Linked DNA regions of Homo sapiens. The protein of the gene in region 2 purifies or fractionates together with the protein of the main gene of each other region. This does not show direct contact. Each region holds a gene or a part of one and is shown on either strand. Other genes may lie near its edges. The genes, in order: EPN3, EHD2, SLC2A4 and EPN1.

Region 1 (6,325 bases), on a different chromosome or scaffold from region 2:
AGCCCACCTTAGCAGAGGACGGGAAGAGGGTGTGGGCTGGGCTGGTGGGTGCACAGACTTTACGCAAACTCATGCACGTGTGACTGGACAGATCTGGGTTCTCTCCATCTCTCCGAAACCCTTGCTGGGGATGAGCGATCTGCATTTTTCGGTCCTGACTTTTGGGAAACTCTCCAGATCCCCCCATCCTGCAGGCCCTGAGAAGAGCAGCCCCTCCCTACTGCGCAGTTCTCCTTGGGACCCTGTATGCAGGAGAGAGCTGATACTCCGTGCCCCGTGGCCCATCCCACCGCCTGCTGGCCCTGCTCCCATCCCCTCAGCTTCCTCCCTCCTCTGCCCTCTCGTCATCTCTGAATTCTCAGGCCCTGCCCTCTCTGTGCCCTTCCCTCCACCTGACAGGGTCTGGCTCAAGGTCACTGCAGTAATTCCATACCCAGCTGCCCAGGGCTGCTGCTGCTACCGCCACCGCCTTATCGGCCGCTGGGTTTCTGTTACACTCCCTTTTATTTCTGGGCATATCGTGTTCGATAAAACCCTTTGCTTGTAACACTGCTGGCAGCGCTCCCAGCTGCTCCCTCCCGCGTTCCCGCGTTCCTTCCTTTCCTCCTCCCTTCTCTGCGCTTGGGCAGGCTTCTTCCTTTCCTCCTCCCTTCTCTGCGCTTGGGCAGGCTTCTTCCTTTCCTCCTCCCTTCTCTGTGCTTGGGCAGCCTCACCTTGTCCCCTCAAACTCCAGAGAAGGAAAATCAAGGTGCCTCCCCATGTTTCTGGCCCCGCCCTTCCCCCCAGCCCCTGCAGGGGTGTGCAGAGAATGCCCACCTTCTGTGAGAAAGGTCCAGGCAGGGCCGCTGGGCCCACACCGAGAGTCCCCTCCCAGAGGCTGGTGCCCCCACACAGGCCAGGCCGGAGGGCCAGGGCAGCCAGGTCCAGGTAGGGCTCTGGTGCAGTCACAGTGCCCGACTGGTTCTGCTAGTTCCAGCGGCCAGCCGGTAGGGGCGTGTGCTGGGCGGGCTTTGGTGCACATTATTTCCCATCTTGACTCTGCCACCCCCAGCCACGGGTTGGGGAGGTGAAGGCAGGTCTGAGTCACTAGCAAGGGGGAGGGCAGGAGTTAAACAAGTTGTGGCCGTGGCATTCCCACAGAAGGCCCACGACCCGCTGGAAGGAAAGAGATAGCAGACAAAAGGTAGGCTGCGCTGTGGGCCAGGCACTCTCCACCTCGCCCACTCCCACGGTATCTTATTCTCTGGGCCCCCAACAAAACCTGCCAAGGCATGTTTTCAAAGCGTGGGGCTGCTTTGAACTGAGCCCAGCACTGGCGGGGCTGGGGTGGAAGGAGCGTGGAATCGGGTGCGAGAGGACAGTCTCCTTCAGATTCCTGCTTCTGGCAGCCTGGGGACCAGTTGGGGCACGGGCTGGGATGGAGGGTGGAGCCGAAAGGTGTTTGGTGGGTGGGGGACAGTTCACGGGTGAAGTGGAGGCTCTGCAGGCCCAGACAGTGTGTGTGTGCATGCACACACCAGTGCTAGTGTGGGAGGAATGGTGGTGGTCAGGGAATTCCTCTTTTGGTTTCTGAAAGGGCCTTTGGGAGGACCTTGGGCCTGGAGTTGTATTCAGCAGATAGCCTGGACCTGTGGCTACTGGGGGGAATTGGGCTGGCCCAGCTCTTCTCCCTGCTGGGGTACCAGAGGTCCACTATGTGTCCAGCGTTTTGGGGCTTTGGAGAACCCAGACTGTTCCTACTCTCAGGGAGCTTCCATTCTAGCTGAGAAGGTGGGACTGAGACAGTAAAGCAATCCGATGAAATAATGACCAAACTGGGTAACACTGACAATAAGAATTGGATTAGTCTTCTGGAGTCCTGGATGGTAGTCCAGGCTCTGCCACTTACGTGCCATATGATGCAGGCAGGTCCCATCCCCTCTCTGGCCTCAACACTTCCATGTGTACGTGGGGGTGGCATGCAGGAGTGTTGGCAGTGGCCAGAACTCTGAGGGGCAGTCTTCCTCAAACGATACTTGCTCTCTTGCCTTCTGGCCCAGGTCATAGCATTTCTTCTGAGCCGCCCTCCCCTGACTTGCTGGTTCACTCCTCCTTACTCTTCCCTTGTGATCTTGGATCTCAGCTCTGTCACCACCTCCTCTAGGAAGTCTCCCCTGATTTTCCTGGCTTGGGTCTTCCTGTGCGGCTCTGCACTCCCACACTGGACTGTGATTTTCTGTACCCTCTCAACTGAACGTGGGTGGACCAAGGCGTGTGTTCTGTGCCTGGCATGGTGCCTGGCTCAGAAAAGGCCTCCGGGAAATAGGTGTTGAATGCATCAAACTACAAAAATTAACAATATGAGAAAAGTGAGCTGAGGAGCTAGGAAGGATAGGTCTTAAGCTAGATCTCAGCAGAAACAGAGGCAGTGGCCGAGCAGAAGCAAGGCAAGCGGGCATTCCTGGAATCCTGTTAGCGTTCCCCCATGAGGCCATGCACTCTTAGGTGGGGCTTCCTGGGGTCATCTTGGTTCCCCATGCAGCAGCTCTGTGATCTCGGACAAGTCACTTAATATTACAGGGTCTCGCTCTGTTGCCCAGTGGCCTGACCATGGCTCACTGCAGCCTCCAACTACTGGCCTCAAGTGATCCTCTTGCCTTGGCCTCCTGAAGTCCTGGAATTACAGGCGTGAGCCACTGCACCGGGCCCATTTAATACTCTGAGCCCCACCTTTCCCATCTGTGGATGGAGGTAATGATAATAGCATCTTTGGGGTGTGGCTGTGAAGATAGATAGATGAGCATGCAAAGCTCCAAGTGCCTGCTGAATTGTAAGTGAAATAAGAACGTGTGCCGCTGAAGGCTGTCCCTGGAGGCAGGGACACTCTGGCCAGGCCTCATTTAGTTGGTCAGTGGCTGAGTGACCCATGAGGTAGGCCTCTGCCCCTGAGTTCCTGGCCCTCTCTTCCTCAGCCCCATGTGGAACCCAAGGATGCAGCTGCTCTGCTAACACGGCAGCCCATCCTTCAAGACTGTGACCTCGCCACAGTGGCCCTCAGCCCTCCACCTCCGGCGGGGGCGAGGGCCACCCACCTCCAAGTCTCCAGCCATGACGACCTCCGCACTCCGGCGCCAGGTGAAGAACATCGTGCACAACTACTCCGAGGCAGAAATCAAGGTGCGCGAGGCCACCAGCAATGACCCCTGGGGCCCCCCTAGTTCGCTCATGTCCGAGATCGCTGACCTGACCTTCAACACAGTGGCCTTCACCGAAGTCATGGGCATGCTGTGGCGGCGGCTCAATGACAGCGGCAAGAACTGGCGGCACGTGTACAAGGCTCTAACATTGCTGGACTACCTGCTCAAGACGGGCTCCGAGCGGGTGGCCCACCAGTGCCGCGAGAACCTCTACACCATCCAGACACTCAAGGACTTCCAGTACATCGACCGCGACGGCAAGGACCAGGGCGTCAACGTGCGCGAGAAGGTCAAGCAGGTGATGGCCCTGCTCAAGGATGAGGAGCGGCTGCGGCAGGAGCGAACCCACGCCCTCAAGACCAAGGAGCGCATGGCACTGGAGGGCATCGGCATTGGCAGTGGGCAGCTGGGCTTCAGCCGCCGCTACGGCGAGGACTACAGCCGCTCCCGGGGCTCCCCGTCCTCCTACAACTGTGAGTAAGCCCCGGTGTGTGGCTGGGATGGGGAGGTGGCCCGACTTCCATTCCTGGCTCTGCAATCCAAGCCATGGTTCATAATACCTACCTCCGAGGGGTGTTATGAAGATTCAGACATAAGGAATGTAACACGCAAGGCGCAACACCCGGCACATAGGAGGTGCTCAACAAGTTAGCTCAGATAATAACGTTGTTATAGATTCATTATCATTCGTTAGCTGCCTGATAGGATGGCGCGATAGTGGAAGCATGGGTTTGGAGTCAGATAGCATTCTATATTCTGCTTCCTCCAAGCTGTGTGACCTGGGCAACCAGTTCTCTGAACCTCAGTTTCCTCATCTGTACAGTGGGGATAAGCTCACCTACCTCCATTGTTTGATCTGAGAATGAAATGAGACCAGGTTCAGGAACGTCCTCTACCCTGCACCCAGACACATGGCATTCCCCTTCATCCCCCTACCTGAGGGCAGCGGCTAGACAGTCCCTGACTCTCCTGCCCCCAGTCATGGGGGCTTCCAGGATCTGAGGAATACTCAGAATGGCCCGCCTTCCATAAAGCCCTTGACAGTTTGCTGAGGGCTTTGAGGTTGTGACCTCGTTGGACTAGAACCTCCTATCCTTGCACCTCCCTTGCCCCCAAGCCAGGACAGGGTCCATCTGGAAGTCCAAGAGCTGGAGTCAGGGCACCTGGGTTCAAGTCCTGCTTCAGGAACCTGGTCAGGGGCCCTAAGTGCCGCCTGTGCATCTGCTAAGGAGGGACTGGAGCCGCCCCTCCATCCGGGATGGGTTGGGATGGGGAACTTACAGAGTGCCTGGCACACTGCTTGGCCCACGGGGGCCTCAACGGCCGTTGTTCCCCTCCTCTCAGTTCTCTTGAGCCTCAGCTTCCTGGCAGGCAGAGGGGTGTGGGAGCCGATGGGTAATCGTGTGGTCACAGAGACATGATGGTCATTGCAGCCTCCTCTTCGTCACCCCGCTATACCTCCGACCTGGAGCAGGCCCGGCCTCAGACGTCAGGGGAAGAGGAACTGCAGCTGCAGCTGGCCCTCGCCATGAGCCGTGAGGAGGCAGAGAAGGTGAGGCCATGCAGCCCCACTGCGGTGGGGAGGGGATGGGCTAGGGGGAGAGAGTGCCTGGGAGCCCCTTGGCCTTGACTCAGGCTCTGTCACCCAAAGCCCCAGTCCTGTGCCCAAGGACAGCACAAGACCCATTATCTCTGTCGGTTTGTCGCAGGCAGGGACTGCCTCCCTGCCTCCAGTCCTCTCCACTGGGCCTGGAAAGGGTGGCGAGTGTACAATTAGGGGCACATGCTATGTCTTGGGGTGCCTGCTACCACCTCATGGTGGAGTGGGTGAGTGTGCTCAGACATATTCCTAGGAGACACTGGGATATGCTTCCCACCCCCGCCCACCAGCTATCCTTTTGGGGAGACAAGGACAGGCCCCCGATATCATCATCTTTGCCATTACCTCTGTGGATCCAGGAAGACCAGGCAGGAAGCAGCTGGGCCTCACACAGGAGGGCCTGAGGAACTCTCAGAGGATTCAGAAGCGAAAGATCAGTCTTCCTGACCTTTAAACTGCATTTCAGATGCAGGCAGGGAGAAGGCCACGCCCACCCTGCTGACTGAGCGGCAAATGGCCCATGCACACTGAGGGTGGGCATTAGTGTCTCCATCCCCATGACCCAGGCAGGCCTATACTGCCCTTCTGGTCCCAAGGTGGGGGTACAGGGCCAAGTTTACCCCTCTCTTCCTCCGCAGCCTGTCCCCCCAGCCTCCCACAGGGACGAGGACCTGCAGCTGCAGCTGGCTCTGCGCCTGAGCCGGCAGGAGCACGAGAAGGTAGTGGGCCGAGCCCGCTGGGCTGCCGGTGCTGCTGCTGCTGCTGGTGGAGGTGCTTCAGGGCACTAACAGCCTCCTCCCGCTGTACCCGGTGGCCCTGCTGCTCCTAACCTCTCAGCTGCCTCCCACCCTGCACTCTCTCGACTCCAGCCTCTGGTGCACAGGTCCCCGGATTCCCGCCTGAGCTGCTCATGCTCCTAACTCTTTCTGTGCCTTCTGCAGGAGGTGAGGTCCTGGCAGGGTGATGGCTCCCCCATGGCCAATGGTGCAGGGGCCGTGGTCCACCATCAGCGGGACAGAGAGCCTGAGAGAGAAGAGAGAAAGGAGGAGGAGAAGCTAAAAACCAGCCAGGTAGGGAGTGGGCTGCGGTGCTTGGGATGGACAGGGCCTAAGAGATGGACTGAGTATTTGTAAAGAGAGAGCAGAGCAGTGCCTGGCATATAGTAAGCACTGATGTGTTTATTCGATGAAATAGGGGTGGGGGTGTAGCAGCCCTAGTCCCACATTGCATGGGCTGGTGACTGAGTTAACAGCAAAGTGGGATGCAAAAGGTTCCTGATTGGAGACCCCCGGATTCGGGTTCTGGATTTGCTGCCACTTACTCTATGACTTGGGGCATGTCACTGTCATGGCCTCAGTTTCCCCTTCTGCACAGTGTGCTTATTGGATAGTTCCAGCTCTGACATGCTAGGATTATGTGATACTGTCAATCAAGACTAGGGTTGGCCTAAGCACATGGTGCTGAAAACACCTCGGGCTCATGGACATATTTTCTCCGCATGGGGAGTGGGCAGCTGCTGAGTGCAAGGCTGCCCTCCAAAGCTGTCCAT
Region 2 (7,506 bases):
CCTTTGGATTTGGGAGGGCATGGGAGGTTATGTGTGTGCGACTGTGTCTGTGTGGGTGTGCATGCATGTGTGCCTCTGTACCTGTGTGTTCGTGCAGGTCTCTGTGTCTATGCCGTGTGTGCATCTCACATTATCTTTGTGATTGTGTGACCACAAACATCTGTGTAGGTCCCAGATTGTGAACACGGGTATGTCTGGGAGCCTGCATCTTGTAGTAATTGGCTATGTTTGTGTCTGGATGTGCTACTGGGGGTGTGTGTGTGTGTGTGTGTGTGTGTGTGTGTATGCGAGCTCATGTGTGTGGCTGCCTCTGCATGTAAGATGTGTGAACACACGCATGTGTGATTGTAGCATAGTAAAGCCCTCAAATCTGGGCTCTGCTACTTTTATTTATTTATGTTATGCTACTTTTTTTTTTTTGAGATGGAGTCTTACTCTGTCTTCCAGGCTGGAGTGCAGTGGTGCGACCTCGGCTCGCTGCAACCTCCGCCTCCTGGGTTCAAGCAATTCTCTGCCTCAGCCTCCGGAGTAGCTGGGATTACAGGCGCCTGCCACCATGCCCGGCTAATTTTTTTGTATTTTTAGTAGAGACGGGGTTTCGCCGTCTTAGCCAGGCAGGTCTTGAACTCCTGACCTCGTGATCCACCCACCTCGGCCTCCCAAAGTGTTGGGATTACAGGCATGAGCCACCGCCCAGCCTATTTTCTGCTGCTTTTAAACTGTGGGACCTTAGGCAAGCCACTTAACCTCTCTTTGCCTCAGTTTTCTTACCTGCAAAATGGGAATAATGGGCTGGGCGCAGTGGTTCACGCCTGTAATCCCAGCAGTTTGAGAGGCCAAGGTGGGCAGATTACCTGAGGTCAGGAGTTCGAGACCAGCCTGGGCAACATGGTGAAACCCTGTCTATACTAAAAATACAAAAATTAGCTGGGTGTGGTGGTGCTTGCCTGTAATCCCACCTACTCGGGAGGCTGAGGCAGAAGAATTGCTTGAACCCAGGAGGTGGAGGTTGCAGTGAGCCGAGCTCATGACACTGCACTCCAGCCTGGGCGATAGAGTGAGACTTGGTCTCAAAAATAAACAAACAGAAAAACAAAACACACACACACACACACACACACACACACACACACACACACACACACTGGGAATAATAATACTAGCGGCCTCATAGTTGTCCTAAAGGTTAAATTAGTTAAAACATACAAAGCACTTAGAAGGTGCACACTTGTGTGTGCACACAGTAGGCGCTATGGAAGTGCCAACAATGCCTGTTTTCGCTGGGTGAGTGCCGTTGTGGGCCCAAGGTTCCTTTTTGCCACGTCTCCCATCCCACACTGACTCAACCTCTCTCCCTTCTTCCCTCCCCGCCCCATGAGACACACTTTCCGAATCTGGGCCAGTATGTGTGTTTGTGGAGACACCGGGAGGGAGGGGGGGCTCCAGTTGCTGTCCCTCCAGTGACTTGGCCCTTCCTCCCCCAAAACAACGGCCCCCAACCCCATCCCGGTCCCTGCGTTGCCCGCAAGGAGGCTGCTTCCTCTCAGGCAGGATGGGTGCAAGCACCAGCTCCCCGGAGGAGCATAGGGGCCCATGGGACTCCTCTTCTGTCGCCTCTTACCTGTGTGTCTTGAGTAAGTCCCCTAACTTCTCTCTCTTTTTTTTTTTTTGAGACGGAGTTTCGCTCTTGTTGCCCAGGCTGGAGTGCAGTGGCAGGACCTTGGCTCACTGCAACCTCCGCCTCCTGGGTTCAAGTGATTCTCCTGCCTCAGCCTCCCGAATAGCTGGGATTACAGGTGCCCACCACCACACCCAGCTAATTTTTTTGTATTTTTAGTGGAGACGGGGTTTCACTATGTTGGTCAGGCTGGTCTCGAACTCCTGACCTCAGGTGATCCACCCGCCTCAGCCTCCCAAAGTGCTGGGATTGCAGGCGTGAGCCACCACGCCTAGCTAGTCCCCTAACTTCTCTGTGCCTCAGTTTCCTCATCTGGAAAATGGGGTCAGAACAGTGCCCACCTCCTGGGGTTGTTGTGAAGAGTCACTGAGTGAGCTCTAGCTGGAGGGCATGAAGTCAGTAAATCAGGGCTAGCTCCTTGTTCTGCCAGTTAACTCTTCGTCCTCCGGGTTCCCACTCTGCCTTCCCTCCTCCTGGAAGTCCTCCTTGACCCCCAGGCTGGGGGTTGGGTCAGGCACTGGCCCTGGGCTCCCACAGCTCCCTGGATCCCCCTGCCCACCCTGGGCTGACCACTCAGGGGCCAGGTCTGTGTCCCCAGTGGGCTGAGAGATGTAAGGACAAAGCTGAAACTGCCTCAGCCTCCACACACACAGCAGGGACCACAGAGGGTGCTTCCCAGTGGGTGACATCACCATGACTTGCTGAGTGCTTACCGTACATCCAGCACTGTTTTTAAAAAAACAGTTTCATTGAGGATTAACGTACACGCCATAAAAACTCAACCATTATGGCCGGGCTCAGTGGCTCATGCCTGTAATCTCAGCACTTTGGGAGGCTGAGGTGGGCGGATAATGAGGTCAAGAGATGGAGACCATCCTGGCCAACATGGTGAAAACCCATCTCTACTAAAAATACAGAAATTAGCTGGGTGTGGTGGCACCTGTAATCCCAGCTACTCGGGAGGCTGAGGCAGGAGAATTGCTTGAACTCGAGAGGCAGAGGTTGCAGTGACCTGAGATCGCGCCACTGCACTCCAACCTGGGCGACAGCGAGACTCCGTCTGAAAAAAAAAAAAAAAAAAAAGCTCAACCATTTTTTTTTTTAAAGAGACAAGGTCTTGCTCTGTCTGCAGGCTGGAGTGCAATGACGCAATCATGGCTCACTGCAGCCTCCAACTGCTGGGCTCAAGTGATCCTCTTGCTTCCTCCTCCTGAGTAGCTGAGACTACAGATGCATGCCAACATGTGTGGATAATTTTTTATTTTATTTTTTTCTGTAGAGACAGGGTCTTGTCATCTTGCCCAGGCTGGTCTCAAACTCCCAGGCTCAAGCGATCCTCCTGCCTCTACCTCCCAAAGTGCTGGGATTACAGGTGTGAGCCACTCTGTCTGGCCACTTCCATCATTTTTAAATGTACAGTTCAATGCCAGGCATTATTTTAAGCTCTTTATATATATTAGCTCATTTATATTCTTTTAATCTTCACAACAGTCTTTTTTTTTTTTTGAGACAGAGTCTCACTCTGTCGCCCAGACTGGAGTGCAGTGATGCTATCTCGGCTCACTGCAACCTCTGCCTCCCAGGCTCAAGCGATTCTCGTGCCTCAGCCTTCTGAATATGTGGGACCATAGGCATGAGCCACCAACACCGGGCTAATTTTTTTGTATTTTTAGGGCTAGGCTGGTCTTGAACTCCTGGCCTCAATTGATCTGCCCACTTCAGCCTCCCAAAGTGCTGGGATTACAGGTTTGAGCCATCACACCTGGCTTCACAACAGTCCTATGATTTGCATTTTACAGAAAAGAAAACACAAGTTCAGAGAGGTTAAGCTACTTGCCTAAGGTCACACAGTGGATGGGGGCAGAGGAGGGACTCAACTCCAGGTCTTCCAGACAGCTAAGTCAGGGGGTCTCAATCGCTTCTCTCTGCTCTCCTCAGCATTGCTTGTTGGTGAATAAATGAGTGAAGAAGCAAAGGTGAGAATGAGTGGATGAAGGAGTGAATGAGGAAATGAATGGTGAAAGGAATGAATGAATGAGCATGGGAACCCATGGCTGGGATGGGTGCTTCATAAGAGCAAGAATCTTGTCTGTGTGTTCTCTGCGGTATCCCAGGCTCCCAGGACAGGGCTTGGCACACATGAGACTCTCAGTAAGTATTGCTAAATAAATGCAAAATATTTAACTTCTCAGCCTGGCCAACATGGTGAAACCCCGTCTCTACTAAAAATACAGAAATTAGCCAGGGTGGTGGTGCATGCCTGTAATCCCAGCTACTCGGGAGGCTGAGGCAGGAGAATTGCTTGAACCTGGGAGGTGGAGGTGGAGGTTGCAGTGAGCCACATTCATGCCACTGCACTCCAGCCTGGGCGACAGAGTGAGACTCTGTCTCAAAAAAAAAAAAAAAAAAAAAAAAAAAAAAAAAAAAAATTATCATCTGCTATGGCAAGAGCACAGCTATCCAGCATGAACTCTAGTTGCTGGATCGTGGGGAGATACAACAGGTCCTGGGGAGGAGCTGGGGTGATAGAGGCATGTGGCAGGCTTGGGGGTTCCATAGAAGCACAGGGGGATCTCTTAGCAAACATGTCAGTATTTTTAACAACCTATATGTACATACCGACGCACACCTGTAATAACTGCTTAATGAATGAGCAAATGAAAAAATGGAGGCCGTGAGGCTGGGCGCGGTGGCCCACGCCTGTAATCCCAACATTTTGGAGGCTGAGGCAGGAGGATCAGTTGAGCTCAGGAGTTTGAGACTAGCCCGGCAGCCCGGGTAACATAGTGAGATCCCATCTCTACTCAAAAAAAAAAAAAAAAAAAAAAATTAGCCAGGTGTGGTGATGCGCGCCTGCAGTCCCAGCTACTAGGGAGGCTGAGGTGGGAGGATCACCTGAGCTCCGGGAAGCAGAGGTTGCAGGGAGGCGTGATCCCGCCATTGTGCTCGAGCAAAGGAAAAGGGGGATGATTGCCCCCTGTAGCCAGATGGCTTGAGGGGCTGGGGCCAGAGCGAGGGGGGAAATTCTGGGCACTGGAGAGCCAGAGCAGTAGTGCCCACTGAGGGCCTTGGCTATTTTGCCCAGACAGGATTTGGACAGCCAACAACGTGAACATCTTTACAGTCCAATATGCAAGAGAATGGGATACTACTGAGAATGGCTGGAGGGTGGGGGTCTGATTTCTGCCCCTTGCGCCCCTGTCTCTCCACTCCCACTCCAGGCTACGACTTCCCGGCCGTGCTGCGCTGGTTCGCGGAGCGCGTGGACCTCATCATCCTGCTCTTTGATGCGCACAAGCTGGAGATCTCGGACGAGTTCTCAGAGGCCATCGGCGCGTTGCGGGGCCATGAGGACAAGATCCGCGTGGTGCTCAACAAGGCCGACATGGTGGAGACGCAGCAGCTGATGCGCGTCTACGGCGCGCTCATGTGGGCGCTGGGCAAGGTGGTGGGCACGCCCGAGGTGCTGCGCGTCTACATCGGCTCCTTCTGGTCCCAGCCCCTCCTCGTGCCCGACAACCGGCGCCTCTTCGAGCTGGAGGAGCAGGACCTCTTCCGCGACATCCAGGGCCTGCCCCGGCACGCAGCCTTGCGCAAGCTCAACGACCTGGTGAAGAGGGCCCGGCTGGTGCGAGTGAGTAGTCCTGAGGGCTGGGCGCGCATTCTTGGAGGAGGTTTCCTCGGTCCTCTCCTACCAGTGCTGTGAGTCCCTGACTTATCAGGGCCCAGGTTAGTTAGTTCTCTTGAAGTTGGGTCATTCTGGCACAGAGTGAAGCCGGGAGGAAGAACTGTATGGAGAGACTCATTCCTCTGCCTTTGGATTTCTGTGTCAACTCCGTGTCACCCTGGCTTCTCTGTCCTGGTATTTCTATTTCTTCTTCCTCTTCCTCCTCCTCCTCCTTCTCTTCTTCTTCTTCCTCTTTTTCTTCTTTCTTCTCTCTTTCCTCCTCCTCCTCTTCTTCTCCCTCCTCCTCCTCCTTCTTCTCTTTCTTCCTCCCCTTCCTCCTTCCTTCCTTCCTTCCTCTGTTCCTCTCTCCCTTCCTCCCTCCTCCCTTCCTCCTTCCTTACATCCTCTTTCGTTCCCTCTTCTTCCTTCTTTTTTAAGAGATGGAGTCTCGCTCTCTTGCCCTGGCTGGAATGCAATGATGCAATCACAGCTCACCACAGCCTTGAACTCCTGGGCTCAAGTGATCCTTCCTCCTTAGCCTGCCCCAAGTAGCTGAGACCACAGGCACGTGTCACCACGCCCAGCTAATTTTTTATTTTTTGTAGAGTCGAGGTCTTACTGTGTTGCCCAGGCTGGTCTTGAACTCCTGCCCTCAAGTGATCCTCCCCTTTTGGCCTCCCAAAGTGCTGGGATTGCAGGCATGAGTATGTTGAATTTTTGAACTTCCTATAAAATATAGACAGACAAATACTCATTATTCTACCCTCTTTATTTTTTGATAATTTATAAGATTGTGGTTCAAAGGTTTCCAAGTTCATTGGTTTATTCCACAAATATTTCTTTTTCTTCTTCTTTTCTTTTTTTGAGACGGAGTTTTGCTCTTATTGCCCAGGCTGGAGTGCAATGGCGTGATCTCGGCTCACCACAACCTCCGCCTCCTGAATTCAAGCGATTCTCCTGCCTCAGCCTCCCGAGTAGCTGGGATTACAGGCATTCACCACCATGCCCGGCTAATTGTGTATTTTTAGTAGAGTATTTTTAGTTGGTCAGGCTGGTCTTGAACTCTCAACCTCAGGTGATCCGCTCTCCTTGGCCTCCCAAAGTGCTGGGATTATAGGCGTGAGCCACCGCGCCAGGCCCACAAGTATTTCTGGAATGCTTTCTGTACACATGGTGCTGGGGCTGGGGATGGAGGGAACAGACAAGGTTCCAGCCCTCCTGGGGCTCATCTTTTTTTAAATTTAATTAATTAATTTATTTATAAGCTAGTCAAATTTAGCAGTGGGGGTGGGGAGTTGCATGCCAACTTTACTGACACTAATAAGTTCTGATAACCAAGGCCAGGTGCGGTGGCTCACGCCTGTAATCCCAACACTTTTGGAGGATTGCTTGAGCCCAGGCATTGAAGACCAGCTTGGGCAACATAGTGAGACACCATTTCTATTAAAAAAAAAAAAAAAAGTTCTGATAACCCACTACCATTGGACCAGCCCCGGGGCTTATCTTTTGATGGAGGGAGACAGAATAAGTAAACAGACATAAAATAACAATGAAGGCTGGGTGCGGTGGCTCACGCCTGTAATCCCAACACTTTGGGAGGCCGAGGGGGGAGCAGATCACTTGAGGTCAGGAGTTCGAGACCAGCCTGGTCAAGATGGTGAAACTGCGTCTCTACTAAAAATACAAAAATTAGCCAGGTGTGGTGGCGGGCACCTGTAATCCCAGCTACTTGGGAGGCTGAGGCATGAGAATCACTTGAACCCGGGAGGCAGAGGTTGCAGTGAGCTGAGATTGTACCACTGCACTCCAGCCTAGGCGACAGAACGAGACTCTGTCTCAAAATAAAAAAAAAAAAAAAGATGAATTTATTACATCTTAGGCGCTTCACAGCACCCGTCTCCCATGACTCTTGTTTGATTGTGGCCACAGATTGTCCCCTTCTCTCACTCCTTTCCTCTGTCCTCATCTCCCATTCCCTTCCCAGCGTCCCCTGCACTTCACGCTGGTGGCCTCAGTCCTGTGCACTTGCTGCTCCCTCTTCCTGGAAACCTCTTCTGCCTTCTTCCCCCTCCCACCTGGCCATCCACAAGGCTCACTCCCTCCTCACCCCTTTCAAGACTCTGCTCAAATGCTCCCTTCTCAGGAAGGCTGTCCATGCCCT
Region 3 (8,049 bases), on a different chromosome or scaffold from region 2:
CAAAGAAAAAAATGAACATTTAATGCACTGGAATAATTGAATGCATTGGAATAAGCATTTGGGTGTGGTGAATCGAACGTGTAGTCTTAGCTACTTGGGAGGCTGAGGTGAGAGGACCGCTTGAGCCCAGGAAGTCTAGGCTGCAGTGATCGGTGACTGTGCCTCTCACTCGAGCCTGAGCAACAGAGACCTCAACTCAAAACCAGTAAAATCGCCGGGCATGGTGGCTCACGCCAGTAATCCCAGCACTTTGGGAGGCCGAGGCAGGTGGATCACCTGAGGTCGGGAATTGGAGACAAACCTGACCAACATGGTGAAATCCCCCATCTCTACTAAAAATACAAAATTAGCTGGGCCCGGTGGCGCATGCCTATAATCTCAGCTACTCGGGAGGCTGAGGCGGGAGAATGGCTTGAACCCGGAAGATGGAGGTTGCAGTGAGCCAAGGTTGTGCCATTGCACTCCAGCCTGGGTAACAAGAGCGAAACTCTGTCTCAAAACAAACAAAAACAAAAATAAAAATGAGACATAGATCAGTGAAGACAGTGTGCTAATAACTGTCATTCGTTCAATCTTCTGTGCTGGAACTCAGGGATCAAGGTCCCCAGAAGCCGGAAACAAAGTGAACCTGTGGAGCAGGAACTGGGTGAGGAAGCTTTCTTTGAAGGATGAAGAGGAGTCCTTTGGAATTCCGGATTTTTTTTTTTCTTCTTGAGACGGAGTCACTCTGTCGCCAGGCTGGAGTGCAAGGGCACGATCTTGGCTCACTACAACCTCCACCTCCTGGGTTCAAGCCATTTTCCTGCCTCAGCCTCCCGAGTAGCTGGGATTACAGGTGTGCATAACCACGCCCGGCTAATTTTTGTATCTTTAGCAGACATGGGGTTTCTCTATGTTGGCCAGGCTGGTTTCAAACTCCTGACCTCAGTCGATCCACCTGCCTTGGCCTCCTAAAGTGCTGGGATTACAGGCATGAGCCACCAGGCCGGGCCGGCATTCCAGATTTTTCAGGGGATTAGTGCAGCAAAGGAATCAAGAAGGGATGTAAAGGCACAGTGTGTTCTGGGTACAATAAGGACTTAGGCATTGCCCAGAACAGGAGGCGAAGGAGATAGAAGGAGAGGCAGGAGAGATAGGTAAGGCCAGAGATCGGATAAGAGAGGCAGGAGGTTTTGTTCACTCTGAAAAGGGATTTGAACTTGGCAATTGGGGCAACAGAGACAGTGACTTCTTGCTTGAGAGATGAGATTGGACCTTCGAAAATTGTTCTCTGCCCTCGTCATAAAGGAAATAAGAGGAGCACGAAGACCAGTGAGGGTGATGGTGATCTGGACTGAAGTGGCAGCCGCCACGGAGAATATCGGATGAATGTGAGAGAGTTTTGGAGGTCAAAGCACCAATGTTGGAAACTAACTGGATAAACGAGGAGAGCGGCGCAGGACAGGAGGAATCGAGCCTGACTTCTACCATAGGGGTGACTGGGCGGGTAATTCATTGAAATAAGGAAGTTAGGAGGAGGAGCAGGTTTGGACATGCTGATCACTAGAGCTGCCACATCCGGGCGGTAACGAACACCTGGATCTGCAGCTCCAGAGAAGGGCCTGGGTCAGATGTCACTGAAGCCCTATGGTGGCGGAAAGGCGAGAAATAGTGGGTTGAGATTCCAAGTGCAATCCACTGCGGCTCCTCGCTCGCCCTCCAGGTGGCAGCACAACCCTGCGCTTCCGAAGCCCGTTTTCTGAGCCAGACACTCTCCACGCTCTGGGTATTTCGGCTTCTCTCTCCCCACACGCCGACCCTAGGTCGCGCACTTTCTGCCTGGCAGAATTTGGCCGAGGATCCAAACCCGGAGCAGCCTCCAGAGAGCGTGTCGTTCACGCGGCCAGCATATGCTCAGAGACCTCAGAGGCTCAGAGACCTCAGGGCTGGTGGTGTGGTCGGTTGTGACCACTTGTCCCTCGGACCGGCTCCAGGAACCAACCTGGGGAATGTGTGTAGGGGAAGGGCGGGATAGACAGTGCCCGGAGCAGGGAGGCGCTGAAAGACAGGACCAAGCAGCCCGGCCACCAGACCCGTTGTGGGAACGGAATTTCCTGGCCCCCAGGGCCACACTCGCGTGGGAAGCATGTCGCGGACTCTTTAAGGCGTCATCTCCCTGTCTCTCCGCCCCCGCCTGGGACAGGCCGGGACGCCCGGGACCTGACATTTGGAGGCTCCCAACGTGGGAGCTAAAAATAGCAGCCCCGGGTTACTTTGGGGCATTGCTCCTCTCCCAACCCGCGCGCCGGCTCGCGAGCCGTCTCAGGCCGCTGGAGTTTCCCCGGGGCAAGTACACCTGGCCCGTCCTCTCCTCTCAGACCCCACTGTCCAGACCCGCAGAGTTTAAGATGCTTCTGCAGCCCGGGATCCTAGCTGGTGGGCGGAGTCCTAACACGTGGGTGGGCGGGGCCTTTTGTTCCAGGGACTCTTTTCTCAAAACTTCCCAGTCGGAGGCTGGCGGGAACCCGAGAGGCGTGTCTCGCCAGCCACGCGGAGGGGCGTGGCCTCATTGGCCCGCCCCACCAACTCCAGCCAAACTCTAAACCCCAGGCGGAGGGGGCGTGGCCTTCTGGGGTGTGCGGGCTCCTGGCCAATGGGTGCTGTGAAGGGCGTGGCCCGCGGGGGCAGGAGCGAGGTGGCGGGGGCTTCTCGCGTCTTTTCCCCCAGCCCCGCTCCACCAGATCCGCGGGAGCCCCACTGCTCTCCGGGTCCTTGGCTTGTGGCTGTGGGTCCCATCGGGCCCGCCCTCGCACGTCACTCCGGGACCCCCGCGGCCTCCGCAGGTTCTGCGCTCCAGGCCGGAGTCAGAGACTCCAGGATCGGTTCTTTCATCTTCGCCGCCCCTGCGCGTCCAGCTCTTCTAAGACGAGATGCCGTCGGGCTTCCAACAGATAGGCTCCGAAGTAGGATTCATCATGAGGGGGCGGGGCGGGGGGGCACGGGTCCCGCTTTTCTTGGGCTGGGGTCGCGGTTGGGGTCAGCTGGGGGTGGTTCCTGCGCAGGCGCAGGGGGTGAAGGTAGGGGGCTGGCTATTTATACCCGGCCTGGACAACCCGTGACTGTGAGATTCCAATCCTACCAAAAGGCAGAGTGGGTCTGGAGGGCCTTTCGGGGCACAGGCAGCAAGTGGATTCTGCGAGCCAGGGTTCACCCCCTTGCCTAGTAGGCGGCGCGGCGCTCCGGAATCGGGGACACCCTGCCCTCGATCCGACTCGGGAAAGCAGATCCAGGCGGGTCTTGCCCTCCGGGAGCTGTCCGTCCGTCTTCGCTCACGGGCAGTGTTTCGAGGACCGGAGGCTCTCCGTGGGCCCCCACCCCCACTCCTGGCCGCCCTCCAGGACGCTGAACTTTCCCTTGGCCCCATGGTTGGTGGAGGGGCAGAGGGGACTGTCAGCCCCCCCTCCTCCAGCTCAGGTTTCCGCTTGGAGACAGTCTGTGCCGCCAGCGAGCGGCCACCACTGCCACCGCCCCTCACACTACCTTCCTGCCCTCCTCCCCTGGGCATGGCTCTCCCAGGCAGAACCCCTGGACGGCCCTCCCTGCACGGAGGTTAGAGGGGGAGGGCAGGCCACGACGTAGATAGAGAAGGCCACCCCTAGATGACCGGGATGTCCTTTCTGGAACAGCACTTCTTGGTCCTGTTGGGGGCCTCCTGGAGCTGGCTGACAGAACCCCCAGAGGGGAGGGAAGAGGACAGTGGCTGATGATAATAATGCACGTGTTAATTTATGAAACCAGCACTGTCAAGGATATTGTTAACATGTGATGTTGATTTTCACAACACTCTCACAGATAGGTAGGCAAGGCAGGCAACATCACCCCCATCTCACAGAGGACACTCAGGTTCGGGGCAGGGAAGTGACTTGGCCAAGGTCACACAAATCTGAGCTCTTAAGGCCAAGCCTGTCTCAAGGTCACAGAAGAATTTTGAGACAAGTTCTCAAACATTTCTCTGCCTTATGGACCCAAACATCCAGTTTCTCCTTTATGCCCAGGTTGCAGTTCAGCTCCTGTTTACATTGAGATCTTTGTGCAATTCCTAATATGGCCCAGTTTCCCTCACCCAACATGTTGGGTGGAGCCCAGTATCTTCAGGCTCCAGCTGGGCCCGGGCCCCTAGCGGAAGGAAAAAAATCATGGTTCCATGTGACATGCTGTGTCTTTGTGTCTGCCTGTTCAGGATGGGGAACCCCCTCAGCAGCGAGTGACTGGGACCCTGGTCCTTGCTGTGTTCTCTGCGGTGCTTGGCTCCCTGCAGTTTGGGTACAACATTGGGGTCATCAATGCCCCTCAGAAGGTGAGGGCCTGCAGCTGGCAGGGTGGGGGTACCCAAACGAGGAGGACAGGTGTCTCGGGGGTGGTGGAAAGGGGACGGTCTGCAGGAAATCTGTCCTCTGCTGTCCCCCAGGTGATTGAACAGAGCTACAATGAGACGTGGCTGGGGAGGCAGGGGCCTGAGGGACCCAGCTCCATCCCTCCAGGCACCCTCACCACCCTCTGGGCCCTCTCCGTGGCCATCTTTTCCGTGGGCGGCATGATTTCCTCCTTCCTCATTGGTATCATCTCTCAGTGGCTTGGAAGGTTCGCAGCTGGAGGGCAGGGGTGGGGGAAACAGGAAGGGAGCCACTGCTGGGTGCCCTCACCCTCACAGCCTCACTCTGTCTGCCTGCCAGGAAAAGGGCCATGCTGGTCAACAATGTCCTGGCGGTGCTGGGGGGCAGCCTCATGGGCCTGGCCAATGCTGCTGCCTCCTATGAAATGCTCATCCTTGGACGATTCCTCATTGGCGCCTACTCAGGTACTCACGGGCACCACAGCCCTGCCTAGCGCCCTGTTCTCTTTCACCATGCCTGGGCTTTCAGATGGGAATGGACACCTGCCCTCAGCCCTCTCTTCTTCCCTCGCCCAGGGCTGACATCAGGGCTGGTGCCCATGTACGTGGGGGAGATTGCTCCCACTCACCTGCGGGGCGCCCTGGGGACGCTCAACCAACTGGCCATTGTTATCGGCATTCTGATCGCCCAGGTGACCGGAGCAAGCCTCATGGGTGCCTGGGCAGTGGTTAGAGTGGGGCTCTGGAGAATATGGTGGGCTTCCAAGGTAAGGCAGAAGGGCTGAGTGACCTGCCTTCTTTCCCAACCTTCTCCCACAGGTGCTGGGCTTGGAGTCCCTCCTGGGCACTGCCAGCCTGTGGCCACTGCTCCTGGGCCTCACAGTGCTACCTGCCCTCCTGCAGCTGGTCCTGCTGCCCTTCTGTCCCGAGAGCCCCCGCTACCTCTACATCATCCAGAATCTCGAGGGGCCTGCCAGAAAGAGTAAGCTCTCCCGCTGCAGCCTGGCCCAGGCCCATGCCTCCGCCTCATCTTGCTAGCACCTGGCTTCCTCTCAGGTCCCCTCAGGCCTGACCTTCCCTTCTCCAGGTCTGAAGCGCCTGACAGGCTGGGCCGATGTTTCTGGAGTGCTGGCTGAGCTGAAGGATGAGAAGCGGAAGCTGGAGCGTGAGCGGCCACTGTCCCTGCTCCAGCTCCTGGGCAGCCGTACCCACCGGCAGCCCCTGATCATTGCGGTCGTGCTGCAGCTGAGCCAGCAGCTCTCTGGCATCAATGCTGTATGTGTGGAGCAGCCTCCAGGCAGGGCACAGCCCCGGGAGGGTAGACGAGAGTGGGGAGCAAACCCCCTCCACCAACACCCAGGGTAGGGCCAGCCTGTTGTGGCTGGAGTAGAGGAAGGGGCATTCCTGCCATCACTTCTTCTTCTCCCCCACCTCTAGGTTTTCTATTATTCGACCAGCATCTTCGAGACAGCAGGGGTAGGCCAGCCTGCCTATGCCACCATAGGAGCTGGTGTGGTCAACACAGTCTTCACCTTGGTCTCGGTAACTGCTCACCTCTGGAATGGCCCGAGCCACTGGCTTCACCTCCCTGGGTGTCCCGGAGGTCCTGCTCTTGGTTGCCCTCACCCACGCGGCCCCTCCTACTTCCCGTGCCCAAAAGGCTGGGGTCAAGCTCCGACTCTCCCCGCAGGTGTTGTTGGTGGAGCGGGCGGGGCGCCGGACGCTCCATCTCCTGGGCCTGGCGGGCATGTGTGGCTGTGCCATCCTGATGACTGTGGCTCTGCTCCTGCTGGTAAGGCCTGGAGGCTAGGAGGGGCTAGCAGCCCACCCCATGGGAATGGTCCTGTGAGTCTCTGTGACCAGCCAGGGTCCCTTCTTAACACACATGCTTTCAATCCTGGCGCCAGCTCCGGACCAGGACTGGGGCTGACTGGCTCCAGAATCTGCTGGGATTGTGGTCTGCTCCTGAGGGATTTGGGCTGCACTGGGAGGCAGCTGTGGCACAACTCTGGCAGCCAGGAGGGAGAGCCCCTGTCAAGCCTCAGGAACAATCATTCCTAAGGACCCAGCTTTAGAGTCCAGGGAGAGCTGACCGTCATAAGAACTGAGAGGCCATAACATTTCCTCTGCCTTGAACCCACTTGGGATAGCCAGCAGAATGCCAGTCAAGGGCCTGCTCTAACCCGGGACAGCAGGCCCCCTACAAGCTGCTGCGGAGGGGGTTAGGTTTCACTTCTCTGAGTTGAGGGCAAGGGAAGATCAGAAAGGCCTCAACTGGATTCTCCACCCTCCCTGTCTGGCCCCTAGGAGCGAGTTCCAGCCATGAGCTACGTCTCCATTGTGGCCATCTTTGGCTTCGTGGCATTTTTTGAGATTGGCCCTGGCCCCATTCCTTGGTTCATCGTGGCCGAGCTCTTCAGCCAGGGACCCCGCCCGGCAGCCATGGCTGTGGCTGGTTTCTCCAACTGGACGAGCAACTTCATCATTGGCATGGGTTTCCAGTATGTTGCGGTAGGTCCCCCCGCCCCAGCCTCCCACACCGTAGGCCAGAGGTGGGCATCACACAGCTAGCCCACCTGCTTCCCCGTCAGGGACTCCTCCAGCCACAGACCATGGGTCTTTGGGTCAGTTTGGTGGACCACCTGCTCCACAGAATCAAAGCAAGGAAGGGAGCTGACCTAGATTGGATAGTAACTGAGGTGTCTGAAACGCACCAGTGGCATAACTTACCTTACTCCAAGAATAAAATGATACACTTTGCATTAATACTACAAACAGCTGGGACTCTCCTCTGAGTGCAGTAACTGAGGATGGTGAAGAGGGCGAAAACTAAGAGTGTTTGGGGTTCAGAGAATCCTCTTTTCAGTGTAAATTCTCATTCCTGCTCATTTCCCTTGTCCCTGGAGGAGGCAGCTGCTGTCTGCCGTCCCCCCAGCTCCCTATGAAGGCCTTTAGCTCCTGGTTGCCTGAAACTACCCCTTCCCTCCCCACCTCACTCCGTCAACACCTCTTTCTCCACCTGTCCCAGGAGGCTATGGGGCCCTACGTCTTCCTTCTATTTGCGGTCCTCCTGCTGGGCTTCTTCATCTTCACCTTCTTAAGAGTACCTGAAACTCGAGGCCGGACGTTTGACCAGATCTCAGCTGCCTTCCACCGGACACCCTCTCTTTTAGAGCAGGAGGTGAAACCCAGCACAGAACTTGAGTATTTAGGGCCAGATGAGAACGACTGAGGGGCCAGGCAGGGGTGGGAGAGCCAGCTCTCTCTACCCGGCCCAGAGACCCCTTCCTTTCCTCTGCAGCACTTTAACCCTCTCTTCCCTATTATTTCCGGGTGGAAAAGAATCCCTGCAGCCTGGTAGAATTGGGAAGCTGGGGGAAGGGTGGTCTGAGCACCCCCTCATTCCCCTCGTGTGACTCTCTTGGATTATTTATGTGTTGTGGTTTGGCCGTGGCCATCAGGGTGGGCCACTCTCCCCTCCCTCTTCCTTCCCCCATCCCCTTTCCTCCCCACCTTCCCCAGACTCAGCTCCAGAATACCTTCTTCGCTGCTAGAGAAGGGGGATTGGAGGGAAGACAGGTCTAGACTTTCTCAGTGGGACAAACCAGAGCAGAGAGCAGGACAGGAGACAAGAAATCCAGTTTCCCACCACCTTGGACTCCTCCCACAATCTGGGA
Region 4 (7,506 bases), 8.0 Mb from region 2:
TCCCAGGTTCAAGCAATTCTCCTGCCTTAGCCTCCCGAGTAGCTGGGATTACAGGTACTTGCCACCACGCCTGGCTAATTTTTGTATTTTTAGTAGAGATGGGGTTTCACCATATTGGCCAGGCTGGTCTCGAACTTCTGACCTCGTGATCCGCCCGCCTTGGCCTCCCAAAGTGCTGGGATTACAGGTGTGAGCCACCGCGCCCAGCCTGTTTTTTGTTTTTTCTTGAAATGGAGTTTCGCTCTTGTTGCCCAAGCTGGAGTGCAGTGGTGCTATCTTGGCTCACTGCAACCTCTGCCTCCCAAGATCAAGCGATTCTCCTGCCTCAGCCTCCTGAGTAGCTGGGATTACAGGCGCATGCCACAATGCCTGGCTAATTTTTTGTATTTTTAGTAGAGATGGTGTTTCACCATGTTGGCCAGGCTGGTCTCAAACTCCTGACCTTGTGATCTGCCCGCCTTGGCCTCTCAAAATGGTAAGATTATAGGTGGGAGCCACCATGCCCGGCCTTATTTATTTATTTTTAAATGGAGTCTCACTCTGTCTCCCAGGCTGGAGTACAGTGGCGTGCTCTTGGCTCACTATCACCTCTGCCTCCCTGATCCACGGGATCCTCCCACCTCAGCCTCCTGAGTAGCTGGGATTACAGGTGTGCACCGCCACACCTGGCCAGTTGTTTTGTGTTTTTAGTAGAAACAGGTTTCATCATGTTGGCCAGGCTGGTCTCGAACCCCTGACCTCGGGTGGTCCACCTGCCTCAGCCTCCCATAGTGCCGGGATTATAGGCGTGAGCCACCACACCTGGCCTCATTTCTCTTTTATTTCAGTGTATGTGGTAGTCCCGCTGTGTGAGCGTGCCATAGTTGATGTATGCATTTCACTGTGCGTGGGTATTCGCACTATTTCCTGCTTCACAATCTTTTTAGCTGCGATACCAAAGTCCAGAGAGCTCTGGAAACGAAAGTGTTTCATGATCCGTTCGGCACAAAGTCTGACCCAGACTGAAGTGAGGTCGTTCACATGGTGTCTGTTGGTCCCACAGTAGTGTGGCTGTTGGCACGACTCTGCCCAGCGCGTTCTCTTATGTGTTGTATGTGCGTTATTTTCCTGGTCTGAACTCAGGAAAATTCTGAATTCCAAAACACAAGGGCCCCAGGAGTTGTGGACCTGGGACTGCCTCTTGGCTTGGGGTGTGATCAGGCATAGCAATGGCTTACCTGCTTTCCTTTCTTTCGTGTAAATACCTTGAGGGCCGGTTAAAGACTAATCTCTGATTACACTGTAAATACTGTTAACACACCTTTGAAAGGCCTTGCCAGAGCTAGGTCCAGCTGCCTCAGAGGGTGAGGAGATATGAATGGCCCTGGCATCTTTCCTGGCAGATTTCTCCTTGGTTCAGACGGAGCTTAGCTGTGATAGCTGACTCTTCCCCTAGGAGCCCTGGGTGGGTTTCTGTGGCTCTGTGAAGGCCCTGGAATCCCCTGCAGAATCAAAGTTGTGCCTTTTTTTGAGGTCAGTGACCAAGACACCCCCTGCAGAGCCTTAAGGGGGCCATGACTCCTCAAGCCCAGGACTTGAGCCTGAGCTAGGGAGAGCCTCAGAGACCTTGGTCCCCCCGCCCCCACTATTAATTTCAACTTGTTGAAAGGGAGTTTGTTTTCGTATTATAAAATACAAACATACCAAAGGGTGCAGATTGAACGATAATGTTCCCTCCGCCCTGTCCTTTTGCTCCTGGTGGTGTGGAACCTGGGTGCCCCTCCCAAGAGAGCCCGGGCCTACACAGGCCCTTGCGTGGATCTCTTCCCTTCTTGCAGAGGTGATAAACTACTGCTCCAGGCTGTTAGTACCAGCGTGAGGTTTTACAGTCAGAAATACACATTTCAAACTAGTACTAAGACCCCCTTCATTGTGATTTAACTAATGTGGTTTTCTTGGCCATGTTACTTTAGATTTTAGTTGTAAAGAAATAGACAGGGCTCCAGGATGCCAGGCGATGCCCATGGCGGCTGTGGTGCCTGTAGCTGCCATTTCCTCTTTTATTTGGATTGAGATGGAGCTCCTACACTGTGCAGCCCCCTTCATATCGCACAGTTCAGTGGCCTTCGGCCCATTCACAGTGCTGGGCGACCACCTCTGTCCAGCTCCAGAACGTCTTCATTGCCCCAGAAGGAAAACCCATAGCCTTCAGGTGGTCCCTCTCCATCCCTCCCTCCACCCCTGGCAACCCACAATCCACTCCGTCTCTCTGGATTTGCCCATTCTGGATGATTCACGTCGATGGAACCGTAGGCTGTGTGGCGTTCTGTGCTGGCGTCTGTCGCTGAGCGCAGTACCTCCGCGGCTGGTCCCCGTCACAGCGTGGGTCTGTGTTCATTCCTTTGCATGGCCGTGTCGTATTCTGTGGGGACAGATGTGTGTCCACCCACTGGCGACAGGTGGGTTGTGGGCCTTGCGCCCAGTCGGCCGCCCCAGAGCCCGCGTCGCAGGCAGTCTCTGGCCCGCCTTGTGCCCGGCGTGCTGACCGGGCATCCCCGTGCCCGCTCGCAGGCCATGACGCTGATGGAGTACCTCATCAAGACCGGCTCGGAGCGCGTGTCGCAGCAGTGCAAGGAGAACATGTACGCCGTGCAGACGCTGAAGGACTTCCAGTACGTGGACCGCGACGGCAAGGACCAGGGCGTGAACGTGCGTGAGAAAGCTAAGCAGCTGGTGGCCCTGCTGCGCGACGAGGACCGGCTGCGGGAAGAGCGGGCGCACGCGCTCAAGACCAAGGAAAAGCTGGCACAGACCGCCACGGGTGAGTCCCTCCCTGCGGCCCCTGACGGCCTAGAGTCTGTCCTCCGCCTACTGCGGCTCCCGGCACCCGGCCGCCCACTGCTTTCTCTCCCAGCCAGGAGGGACCGCGGCATCCCCCTTTGCTTCTCCTCACCTGGGCCCCTTGCTCTGGTCTCACTTGGGCCCTTTTTTTCCCTTAGCACCTCCCATGCAGCAGCTCTGGGACCCTTCCTGCCTCTTGCCTCGTGCCCCAGGGCAGGCCTAGAATTGGGAACTTTTATTCCGCTCCCCCATAGGCTCAGGGCCTGAGGGTGATCAGTGCTGGGGACAGGGCTCTGAGGGGACACGCACAGTGACCCCCGAGGGTGCTGTCCTTCTCTCTGCGCTGAGATGAGGGGAACATCGGAGAGGCAGAGGGGGGCCTGGAAGAGGCACAGAAGGAAGGCCAGAGCCAGGGCCTGCAGGTTGCACCAGGCATCTGGGCCTGTGTTAGGAGCCTTGACAGTGCCTTCTGGAGGTGGAGGACTCAGTCTGGTGGGTGGTGACCAGCACCGAAAACAAAACTTGAAATAGTGCATCCCACATCGTCAAGCCAAGATCTGTCCCACGAAACATTTCCAGTTATGTGATGGGTGTGTGGGTCTCGGACTGTTCCAGGAAGTGTGGTCTGTGTTGGTCGGGGGCTCACAGCCGTGAAGAGGCTAGTCCGGCTGCTCAGGACTGGGAGGGAGGCTGGAGAATGTCTGCCAGGCTCTTCTGCTCTCCAGGAAGAGTGGAGGTGCCTCAGTTAGTGGGGATACGTGGGATGGGGAGGGGCTGCTAGAGCACTGCCCTGGAGGTGGAGGTGGGTCAGCCAGGCCGGTGCAGACAGGAGGAAGGGCCTGTGGCCCTCGTGGGGTCCGGCTCGAGGGACTGGACTTGTTTGGGGAAGTCTAGGCCTTCTGTTTGGACGGGTCTCATTTGGGATCACCTTTCAGCACCCACGGGGAGACATGGGTGTGACGGGGTGTGTGCGACCCTGCCTGGGACTCCAGAGTAGGGACCCACGAGCCAGTAGATGGGCGTGAACGCAGAGAGAGAGTGAAGTGGAGGGAAGGAAGCCGGTGTGGCGTGGGAGTGCTCAGAGCCAGGGACAACAGGAGGGAGTGTAGGCGGCAGAGAGGGGCTGGTCAGCTCGAGGCAGGCAGGCAGGCAGGTGGGTGGCGGGGTTGGGGTGGACGGAGGAGGGACATTGGCAGTAGCTCGGAGGAGAGTGGGAGCCTCAGGTAAGAGGCCTGAGGGTGGGACATCCTGGCTCGGGGGTCGTCAGACTTTGTGCAAGGCCAGAGCTAATGTCCTCTGCGTTGCTGGCCACGCCTTCCCATCCTAGCTGCCTGGCCCCGTCCGCTGGCGGTTGCTGGGAAGCAGCTGCACCCCTCCGACACTCACCAAGGTCTCCGAAATTTGAATTTTATGTAGTTTTCACGTGTCTTTTTTAAGACTTTTAAGTTGTTATTTAATTTTTTAAGGGTACTCTGAATTTTCGCCCATCTTGGTGCATTCTTTTCATTTCTTCCAACCATTGAAAAATGTAAAGGCCTTTCTTAGACCTTCTCAGGCCAGCTGTGGCTGCCACTGTGGTGTGCTGGCCCCTGTCTTGGAGTGAGTTGTGTGGAGGGCTGTGGCTGGGGAGGAGGATGGGGGCAGCTAGGGAGTGAGCCCTGAGACCCTCAGTGGGCAGGGAAGGGCCTGTGGTCCCCGGGCAGCACCGAGGCTGGGTGCTCTGGTGATGGGAAGGCCCGGGTGTTGCTGGCTGGGTGCCAGTATTACCTGTGATGTGGGAGGTGGGGCCCTCAGGGCTGCTGGGCATTGGATTTAGCCACCACCAGGCTGGGGGGTTAGGGGCATGTGCAAGGTAGAGGTTGGGCAATGGGGTGTAGATTCCCAGCACTCACCTCTGAGAGTCCCTAGAGCTTAGGAGGAAGTCACAGGGGCAGGGAAGAGCAGGAGGGGCCACAGGGGTGTGGTCCTCCCTGTGCGCTGGCCTCACCTGTGCCCCACGCTGCCCTTCCATCTGCCCATCCCCTCAGAAGGCCGCTTACCCACCCAAGTCCGTCAATCCCTGCTGGTTCTCTCGTCCTTTCCTCACTCATAACCCCAGATGGTCACCCTTCGGCCCCGCTCTGCCACCCACATGCTCCCTGGAGCATCCCATGCACCCAGCCCTGCTGGGCACACCACACGGGGGCCAGCCTGGGGGCCCCTGGACCCGGTGCAGGTGGGGCCGCCAGACAGCTGCCTGCTGCGGCTCCGGGCAAGGGGAGCCAGGGCCTGCTCGTCAGGGAGAGGCCTGGGCCTGGGGAGTGGGTTGGGTGGGGACACAAGTACAGGACACAGGTGCAAGGCGGCGTCTTGGAGCTGGAGCAGACAGAACTTGCTGACCAGTGCACAGTGGTTGGGAGGGCGGGGCAGGAGAGGCAGGGTCCGCCCTGGGGCTTTGGAGGCTGGGGCAATGGCCCTGTGCTCGGCGGGCCTAGGGCCTGGTTGGAGCCTGTCCTCTGCACTGTGGAGGGGGGCAAGGGTCCACAGGCCTTGGGGGTGGAGAGAACAGTGTCAGGACAGAGTTTGAGGGTAGGCGGGGTTGCTGAGAGGATGCTGCAGTGGAGGCCGGGGATATCTCAGCAGCCTCCTGGAGGGTCCGGCCCTGCCTTCCTGTGTCCTCTCTCTCCCTTCCCCTCCTGCTCTTGGAACCAAGGGCTCCTCGCTAGCCCACTCCCTAACCCCGACTAGGCCTTGGATCCCGCTGTCTCAATGGATGCTGTTCTCCCCTCTGAATTCCAGTTGTTCCCTGCCAGAGCTACCATTCTCAACAAGCCCTGGAAACAGGCCTGGGAAACCTGGGAGGAAGGACCTCCCATCCCCCAGGGGCCCAGGGACAGACCCCAGGCACGCGGAGAGTCCTGGTGGTGGCAGGGCTCAGAGGTTGCTGGGGTTCCCCACCTGCTTATCAGACTGACTTTTGCTCTGGTCCTTCCCTGATGCCTGGCCCCTCCCGTGGGTGGGGCTGCCTGCATCCCCACCCTTCCTCCTCTGAGCACCTGGCGTCTGGTCTCCGCCTCTCAGTCCTAGTCTTGGCCTGCAGAGGTTGTAGGGTGGGGGACTTGGGGGGTGGGGTTGGACACAGAAGCCCCCGTCTGTCTAGGCTATGGGGTTTCCTGTCTCTCGTTCCCTGGTCTGGGTCTCACGCGTTTCTCACCCGCCCTCCAGCCTCATCAGCAGCTGTGGGCTCAGGCCCCCCTCCCGAGGCGGAGCAGGCGTGGCCGCAGAGCAGCGGGGAGGAGGAGCTGCAGCTCCAGCTGGCCCTGGCCATGAGCAAGGAGGAGGCCGACCAGGTACTGGGCGTGCAGCTGGGGCTGTCTGTCCGCCACCCGCCTCCACGCCTCACTTCAGGCTCCCTCCCAGCCAGGCGTGGGCCTGGCCCTCACTGTCGCTGCTCCACATGCTGTCACTCGTCTCCTCCCCAGTCCTGCCTCATCCTCACCCCGCCGTCCCTCTGCGTGTCACTCTCTGCCTGTCCCTCACTGGTTCAGGGACCCCCAGCCCTCTCTTTCTTCGGCTCTATCTGACCCTGGCTCTGCCTCTGACTCTGCCTCTGGCCCCTCCCGTCATGCCCCTCACACTCTCTCTCCCCCAGCCCCCGTCCTGCGGCCCCGAGGACGACGCCCAGCTCCAGCTGGCCCTTAGTTTGAGCCGAGAAGAGCATGATAAGGTCAGAGCAGCCTCCCTGTCCCTGCCCCTGCCAGGGGCTCCCCTCAGACCAGCCCCGTCGCCCCTTCCTAAGTCACCCCCCACCATCCTGCTGGGCCCGAAGCCCACAGGCTCACGCGTGTTGAAACCTCAGTACCTTCAGCCGTAGGATGTAGGACCACAAGTCAGACAGAGCCTGGGTGGTGGCCAGCACAGCTGTGCCAAGGTTGCTCGGGTGACCAGGGTCCCTTCCTCCCCCCAACGCAGGAGATACCACCGAGGCGGGTGCCCGTCCTCCCCGGGTGCGCCAGCACAGCACCCCACTCCCCTTATCCCCTGTCCCGCCTGACCTTTGACCCAGGTGCCCCATCCCCATTTCATACATTGTCCGCATCCCATCGAATCCTTCAGCCGCTTTCGTTGGGGTGGGAGGGGTTGCTGGGGCTTCCAGGCTGAGGTGGCATCTGCCCGTGGCTCACGTTCTCATGTCTCCCTGGTCGTGCCCGTGCCCCAACAGGAGGAGCGGATCCGTCGCGGGGATGACCTGCGGCTGCAGATGGCAATCGAGGAGAGCAAGAGGGAGACTGGGGGCAAGGAGGAGGTGAGCGGGGCTTGTTCTGCCCTCCCTGGCCCCTGCAGGTGTCCGTCCGTCCCATCGCTCATTCCTGCGTGGCCAGGTCCCTGGAGCAGAGACTGAAACACAAGGTCCTGGAGCTGGGCACCGGGTTTCCAGGCTTGGTCGGCCTCTCTGTGCCTCTCCCTCCCTGCTGGGCTGAGGCCGGTGACTGACCAGGCTGCCCTGCGGCCACCTCCTGTGGTCAGCGCTGGCCATCCCCCTTCGGGCTGAGCACCGTGAGGGCCACCACCGGCCGCCACAGCTGAATGGGGAGGCCCAGAATAGGCCAACAGCCTGGCATGGCCACAGGGAGGAGGGTGCAGGGCTCGCCCCATCTGTCACACTTTGTCGGGCACCTCCTTGGTGCCAGGCCGTGTGCTGCACAC

The links.
Region 1: the proteins of EHD2 (region 2) and EPN3 purify together in Homo sapiens (affinity purification with western blotting, with the first as the bait; one study listed by BioGRID). This does not show direct contact.
Region 3: the proteins of EHD2 (region 2) and SLC2A4 purify together in Homo sapiens (affinity purification with western blotting, with the first as the bait; one study listed by BioGRID). This does not show direct contact.
Region 4: the proteins of EHD2 (region 2) and EPN1 purify together in Homo sapiens (affinity purification with western blotting, with the first as the bait; one study listed by BioGRID). This does not show direct contact.

What each region holds. Positions count from the first base shown.
Region 1 is NC_000017.11:50,533,470-50,539,794, forward strand, and holds part of EPN3 (epsin-3), read left to right. Parts: intron 1-2,951; 5' UTR 2,952-3,087; coding exon 3,088-3,649; intron 3,650-3,824; exon of another isoform or gene 3,825-4,032; intron 4,033-4,457; exon of another isoform or gene 4,458-4,609; coding exon 4,610-4,728; intron 4,729-5,121; exon of another isoform or gene 5,122-5,285; intron 5,286-5,414; coding exon 5,415-5,495; intron 5,496-5,717; coding exon 5,718-5,846; intron 5,847-6,325.
Region 2 is NC_000019.10:47,720,913-47,728,418, forward strand, and holds part of EHD2 (EH domain-containing protein 2), read left to right. Parts: intron 1-4,899; coding exon 4,900-5,312; intron 5,313-7,506. UniProt on the Homo sapiens protein: ATP- and membrane-binding protein that controls membrane reorganization/tubulation upon ATP hydrolysis. Plays a role in membrane trafficking between the plasma membrane and endosomes. Important for the internalization of GLUT4.
Region 3 is NC_000017.11:7,279,026-7,287,074, forward strand, and holds the start of SLC2A4 (solute carrier family 2, facilitated glucose transporter member 4), read left to right. Parts: upstream 1-2,692; 5' UTR 2,693-2,909; coding exon 2,910-2,942; intron 2,943-4,219; coding exon 4,220-4,336; intron 4,337-4,447; coding exon 4,448-4,620; intron 4,621-4,712; coding exon 4,713-4,837; intron 4,838-4,948; coding exon 4,949-5,064; intron 5,065-5,191; coding exon 5,192-5,354; intron 5,355-5,459; coding exon 5,460-5,647; intron 5,648-5,809; coding exon 5,810-5,914; intron 5,915-6,062; coding exon 6,063-6,164; intron 6,165-6,679; coding exon 6,680-6,883; intron 6,884-7,400; coding exon 7,401-7,604; 3' UTR 7,605-8,049. UniProt on the Homo sapiens protein: Insulin-regulated facilitative glucose transporter, which plays a key role in removal of glucose from circulation.
Region 4 is NC_000019.10:55,682,846-55,690,351, forward strand, and holds part of EPN1 (epsin-1), read left to right. Parts: intron 1-2,550; coding exon 2,551-2,800; intron 2,801-6,024; coding exon 6,025-6,149; intron 6,150-6,451; coding exon 6,452-6,526; intron 6,527-7,021; coding exon 7,022-7,105; intron 7,106-7,506. UniProt on the Homo sapiens protein: Binds to membranes enriched in phosphatidylinositol 4,5-bisphosphate (PtdIns(4,5)P2). Modifies membrane curvature and facilitates the formation of clathrin-coated invaginations. Regulates receptor-mediated endocytosis.